Regions from separate parts of the Homo sapiens genome. Here region 1 is linked to region 2. A link means that fine-mapping ties the variant in region 2 to the expression of a gene that starts in the linked region. Tissue or cell type: whole blood. Region 2 holds a variant in brackets; the other region holds the start of a gene. All regions are shown on one strand. Distances are between the middles of the regions.

Evidence for each region. PIP is the estimated chance that this variant, and not a neighbour inherited with it, causes the effect.
Region 1: it holds the start of SCNN1A, and the variant in region 2 is fine-mapped to the expression of SCNN1A in whole blood (TOPMed, PIP above 0.99).

Annotation. Positions count from the first base shown.
Region 1 is chr12:6,374,156-6,376,655 of GRCh38, reverse strand. It overlaps SCNN1A (sodium channel epithelial 1 subunit alpha), which reads left to right and starts at 1,093. Exons shown (of 13, transcript NM_001038.6): 1 at 1,093-1,151; 2 at 1,819-2,288. The coding sequence starts at 1,873. It also overlaps a transcript of LTBR not described here. RefSeq lists enhancers at 1-265, 2,082-2,500.
Region 2 is chr12:6,344,547-6,347,384 of GRCh38, reverse strand. SCNN1A (sodium channel epithelial 1 subunit alpha) reads left to right here. Exons shown (of 13, transcript NM_001038.6): 13 at 1-538. It overlaps LOC112268088 (a long non-coding RNA gene), which reads right to left and starts at 1,581. Exons shown (of 2, transcript XR_002957396.2): 1 at 1,369-1,581; 2 at 307-1,020. It also overlaps the pseudogene RN7SL391P. RefSeq lists an enhancer at 1,008-1,508. The variant A/C (reference allele first, on the strand shown) is at 1,453.

The DNA of each region.
Region 1 (2,500 bases), 29 kb before region 2:
CACTTGGCACTCCACTCCTTATCCTTTTGCTGCATTAAGTTTGGAAAGAGATTTTGGAGAAAATATAGCCCATCAACGAATTTCTCCTCCTCCCAGGGCCTGTCTAGGCGTGTGCCATGCCCACCCTCTTCCTTTCCAGCGCTGGCCACATCCTCCCTGCACCTTCAGTGCCTGCTTTCCCTGCCTCTTCCTGGGCTCCGGGTCTGTGTCCACAGTGTCCTGCGTGGCCCTCGCGCTGCCTCTGGTTGCCCACATTCCTGCAACTCTGTGACCACAGCAGGGGCGATTACACATTCCTGGCCTGGCAGCCAACAGTGTAAAAAAGAACAGAATGTCCTAGGGCCCCGCCTAGCCCCCAGCTTCACCTGGGCCCCTCCCGGGTCTGGACAAGGTTGGAGGGGGTGGCGAGGAATCAGCAGGAAAGAGGAGGGACCAGGAGGAGGCAGACGCATCCCACCTGAGTGCGCTGCTCCCACTTAGTGAGCGGGGAGGAGACCTGCAGAGACCTCTTCTCTCTTCTCTGCAGGGCCTGAGGGTGAGGCTGACCTGTGGGTGCCCTTGGAGGGCTGCCCACTTGCTGAGCCTCTAGCTCCTGGAAGCACACTTGGGACTCCCCCCTTGCTCTCCTTCCTGGAGACAGACTCCCTTTGGTGCTGGCTCCTTCTATTTGCCCCCACCACTGCCCCCCACCTGCCTCTACTCACTCAGTGCCCCTCCTCCATCCCTATCTCTCTGTCCTTCGCTGTCCCTCTCTATTGTCTCCCTCTTTCTGCCCTCCTGTCCTCCCGGTTCCCCACCCAGGCCCTCTCAGCCTGGCTGGCCCCTTCTCCTTGTGTTGCCCTCCTAGCTGTGGGCTCAGGATCCTTCTACTTGTTCAGATCTTTGCCCCTCACCTGCCATCCTGTCCCCCAGCCTCCTTGCCTGTCTGCGTCTAAAGCCCCTGCCCAGAGTCCGCCTTCTCAGGTCCAGTACTCCCAGTTCACCTGCCCTCGGGAGCCCTCCTTCCTTCGGAAAACTCCCGGCTCTGACTCCTCCTCAGCCCCTCCCCCCGCCCTGCTCACCTTTAATTGAGATGCTAATGAGATTCCTGTCGCTTCCATCCCTGGCCGGCCAGCGGGCGGGCTCCCCAGCCAGGCCGCTGCACCTGTCAGGTGAGGGGGAGGAGAGGTTTGGCTGCCAGATTCAACTGGAAAGGAACCAGTCCCAGTCCAGCCGCAACCTGGGAGTGGGAAGCTGGAGGCAGCCCAGACCTCCTGGAGCCCTGCAGTCCTGGGGCAGAGACAGAATCAGGACACAGCTCGAGGTCAGGGCCAGAGGCTGGAGCTGAGGGCCTAGAGTGAGAGGGGGCAAGGCAAGGGGGGGAGAGGAAGAGAGGCAGGATTAGAGAGAGGAGGCAGGCCAGAAAGAGGAGAGCAGGAGAGACCCAAAGAGAAACAGAAGGCAGATAGAGAGGGAGTGAGAGGCAGGAGCTGAGACACAGATCCTGGAGGAAGAAGACCAAAGGAAGGGGGCAGAGACAGAAAGGGAGGTGCTAGGACAAAACTCGAAAGGTGGCCCTATCAGGGAAGCAGAGGAGAGGCCGTTCTAGGGAAGCCCAGCTCCGGCACTTTTGGCCCCAACTCCCGCAGGTCTGCTGGCTCCAGGAAAGGTGGAGGAGGGAGGGAGGAGTGGGAGAATGTGGGCGCAGGGTGGGACATGGGCATGGCCAGGGGCAGCCTCACTCGGGTTCCAGGGGTGATGGGAGAGGGCACTCAGGGCCCAGAGCTCAGCCTTGACCCTGACCCTTGCTCTCCCCAATCCACTCCGGGGCTCATGAAGGGGAACAAGCTGGAGGAGCAGGACCCTAGACCTCTGCAGCCCATACCAGGTCTCATGGAGGGGAACAAGCTGGAGGAGCAGGACTCTAGCCCTCCACAGTCCACTCCAGGGCTCATGAAGGGGAACAAGCGTGAGGAGCAGGGGCTGGGCCCCGAACCTGCGGCGCCCCAGCAGCCCACGGCGGAGGAGGAGGCCCTGATCGAGTTCCACCGCTCCTACCGAGAGCTCTTCGAGTTCTTCTGCAACAACACCACCATCCACGGCGCCATCCGCCTGGTGTGCTCCCAGCACAACCGCATGAAGACGGCCTTCTGGGCAGTGCTGTGGCTCTGCACCTTTGGCATGATGTACTGGCAATTCGGCCTGCTTTTCGGAGAGTACTTCAGCTACCCCGTCAGCCTCAACATCAACCTCAACTCGGACAAGCTCGTCTTCCCCGCAGTGACCATCTGCACCCTCAATCCCTACAGGTCGGTTAGTCCCTCTGCCCCTTCCCTGGTGCCTGCGCCTGGAAGGGTGGTCCAGGGTGCTGAGGTGCTCACTGGGCAGGCAGAGCCTCAGACCTGAGGGTGGGAACTGACACCCCTGTCCCAGGTAGAGCTCACTGCTGGCAAAATGAGGAGCCTCCAGCTTACTGGACTGGCGTCCCTGCCCAGTGGAGCCATCCTAGCACCCCAGGCTC
Region 2 (2,838 bases):
CCCCACCCAAAAGCCCCCTTTGTTACTTAGGCAATTCCCCTTCCCTGACTCCCGAGGGCTAGGGCTAGAGCAGACCCGGGTAAGTAAAGGCAGACCCAGGGCTCCTCTAGCCTCATACCCGTGCCCTCACAGAGCCATGCCCCGGCACCTCTGCCCTGTGTCTTTCATACCTCTACATGTCTGCTTGAGATATTTCCTCAGCCTGAAAGTTTCCCCAACCATCTGCCAGAGAACTCCTATGCATCCCTTAGAACCCTGCTCAGACACCATTACTTTTGTGAACGCTTCTGCCACATCTTGTCTTCCCCAAAATTGATCACTCCGCCTTCTCCTGGGCTCCCGTAGCACACTATAACATCTGCTGGAGTGTTGCTGTTGCACCATACTTTCTTGTACATTTGTGTCTCCCTTCCCAACTAGACTGTAAGTGCCTTGCGGTCAGGGACTGAATCTTGCCCGTTTATGTATGCTCCATGTCTAGCCCATCATCCTGCTTGGAGCAAGTAGGCAGGAGCTCAATAAATGTTTGTTGCATGAAGGAATGTCTGGAGAGCTGGATGGGGCATCATGAAGAGGGTAGGGGGTGGATACAAGTCATCACCCAAGCTTCTGGGAGGTCCTGGGGCTGGGAGAGGGTACAGACTCCCATGCCCCTTGGCTGCACCATGGAAGTGACCATTCTTCACGGGGTCTTAAGAGGGACAAACGTTCTGGTGAATTCCTCCATGGGTGTTGCTGAGCGTCTGCTATGTGCCCATGGCCATGTTAGGGTGGAAGGGGGAAGACATGATGCCACCCCTTCAGGGGACCTACCTCACAGTGTTTGGGGAGACTTGCCCTCTCCACTGTCTGAACCTCCTTTTCCTTCTCTGCTTTAGTCACCATCATCACTAACCTCCCCATCCCCCACTCCACTTGCTGAGTCCCACTTACCACCTGGCGGCAATGAACCCTCATCTGCCTGCCTCCCATCAGCTGTCTGGTGGTGGTGGAGGATGATGAGGCTCAGGCCAGTTTCTCCTGGAAATGCAAAGCCTTATATGGTCTTATTGGTACATGATTGCAGAGAGGGGCACAGGGAATCCTCCCAGCTTTAGTAAAGGAGAGACTGAGGTCCAGGGAGGGGCTGAAGGATGTGCGAGTGGAACTCCAGCTCTCCGATCCTTGTTTCTCCCCCACTCCAGCATAAGACCTGGAATCCAGAAGTGACCCTTTCTCACCATCTTTGGGGATTCTGTCCCTGCCACCTTAGTCTTATTCATCTTAATTGCAGTCTCCCTGTTCTGAGGAGCCAAAGGAGGAAGAGACTTTCGGGGAAAGAGGAGAAGGAGCTGGTGACAGGGGTAGGAAGGTAGACAGGGTCATGACCTGAAACGGTGTGACGACTGCTGACTTCCCTTTCCTGGACTTGAGCTGATGAAGGGGAAATGGTGTTGCAGTCTCCTCTGTCAG[A/C]GCCCTCAGGTGCAGACGGCACTTGTCTGCCCCCTCAGCCTCAGCCTTGGCCCACCTGGTCCCCAGTGCCCTCTCCTCTGGCTGGGGCAGGAGGACCTGCCGGACATAGCCAGATGTATTACGGATGACTGCAGTCAGCTCCCCCAGGCTCCTGCTTCTCTTGCCTCCTGCTTTTTTCCCCAGAGCTGTCTCCTTATCTCCATTCACTTGTCTATGGGTTACTCCTGGACCCTGGGGTTAGGAGTTGGAATCAGGCTGTTAGCGATAAAAGGGTTCAAGTTGACTCATTTTCCTTATCAGGCTTAGTAGTTGAAGTGACTTGCTGAGCTTCATAATTCTTAGAGAACCTGCCATGAACCCAGCTCCCTTTCTATGACTCACCCTGCCACCCTGTGACACATAGAGTCTGAATGGCAGGTCTGGGGCTAGAACCCACGTCATCTGGACTTGGAGTCCAGTGACCCTTTGGGTTAAGCATGTGTGTGTGTGTGTGTGTGCCATGATGCGGGAGGAAGGTCCCTGCTCTCTGTAGCTGTTTTCTTCATCCTTTGCTCTACAAGCCCTAACAGCCGATTCTGTCATCCCTAGTCTGCCCCTCTCCTGTTTCTCCATCTCCTCTGACCATGATTTTTTTCTGTCCCTGGAGGGATGATGGTCTCATTCTCACCTCCTCCACGAAACGTGTTAGCTTTTCATATTCCTAGATCCACTCACTTCTCATCATCTTTTTTTTTAAACAAAATTTTATTGAAAAATGTAATATGACGTGTCAAAGTTGTAAAGTTATTGAGTAAATAAGCATGTATCCTAAATATTGAAAAATATTCTCCTTTTGTACCAGGCTATGTGTCACGGCTTTGGCGCTTTGCACAGACTATTAGAAATACCTTATAACATTAAAAATAGGACATTGAGGCCGGGCGTGGTGGCTCATGCCTGTAATCCCAGCACTTTGGGAGGCCAGGGTGGGTGGATCACCTGAAGTCAGGAGTTTGAGACCAGCCTGGCTAACACGGTGAAACCCCGTCTCTACTAAATACAAAAAATTAGCCGGGCATGATGGCACATGCCTATAATCCTAGCTACTCGGGAGGCTGAGGCAGGAGAATTGCTTGAATCCGGGAGTCAGAGGTTGCAGTGAGCCGAGATTGTGCCACTGCACTTCAGCCTGGGCAACAAGAGTGAAACTCTATCAAAAAAAAAAATAGGACATTGAAGTTGGTTTCTTTTTTTGATACAGAGTCTCGCTCTGTCACCCAGGCTGGAGTGCACTGGCAGGATCTCGGCTCACTGCAACCTCTGCCTCCTGGGTTCAAGCAATTCTCCTGCCTCAGCCTCCTGAGTAGCTGGGATTACAGGCACGCGCCACCACGCCTGGCTAATTTT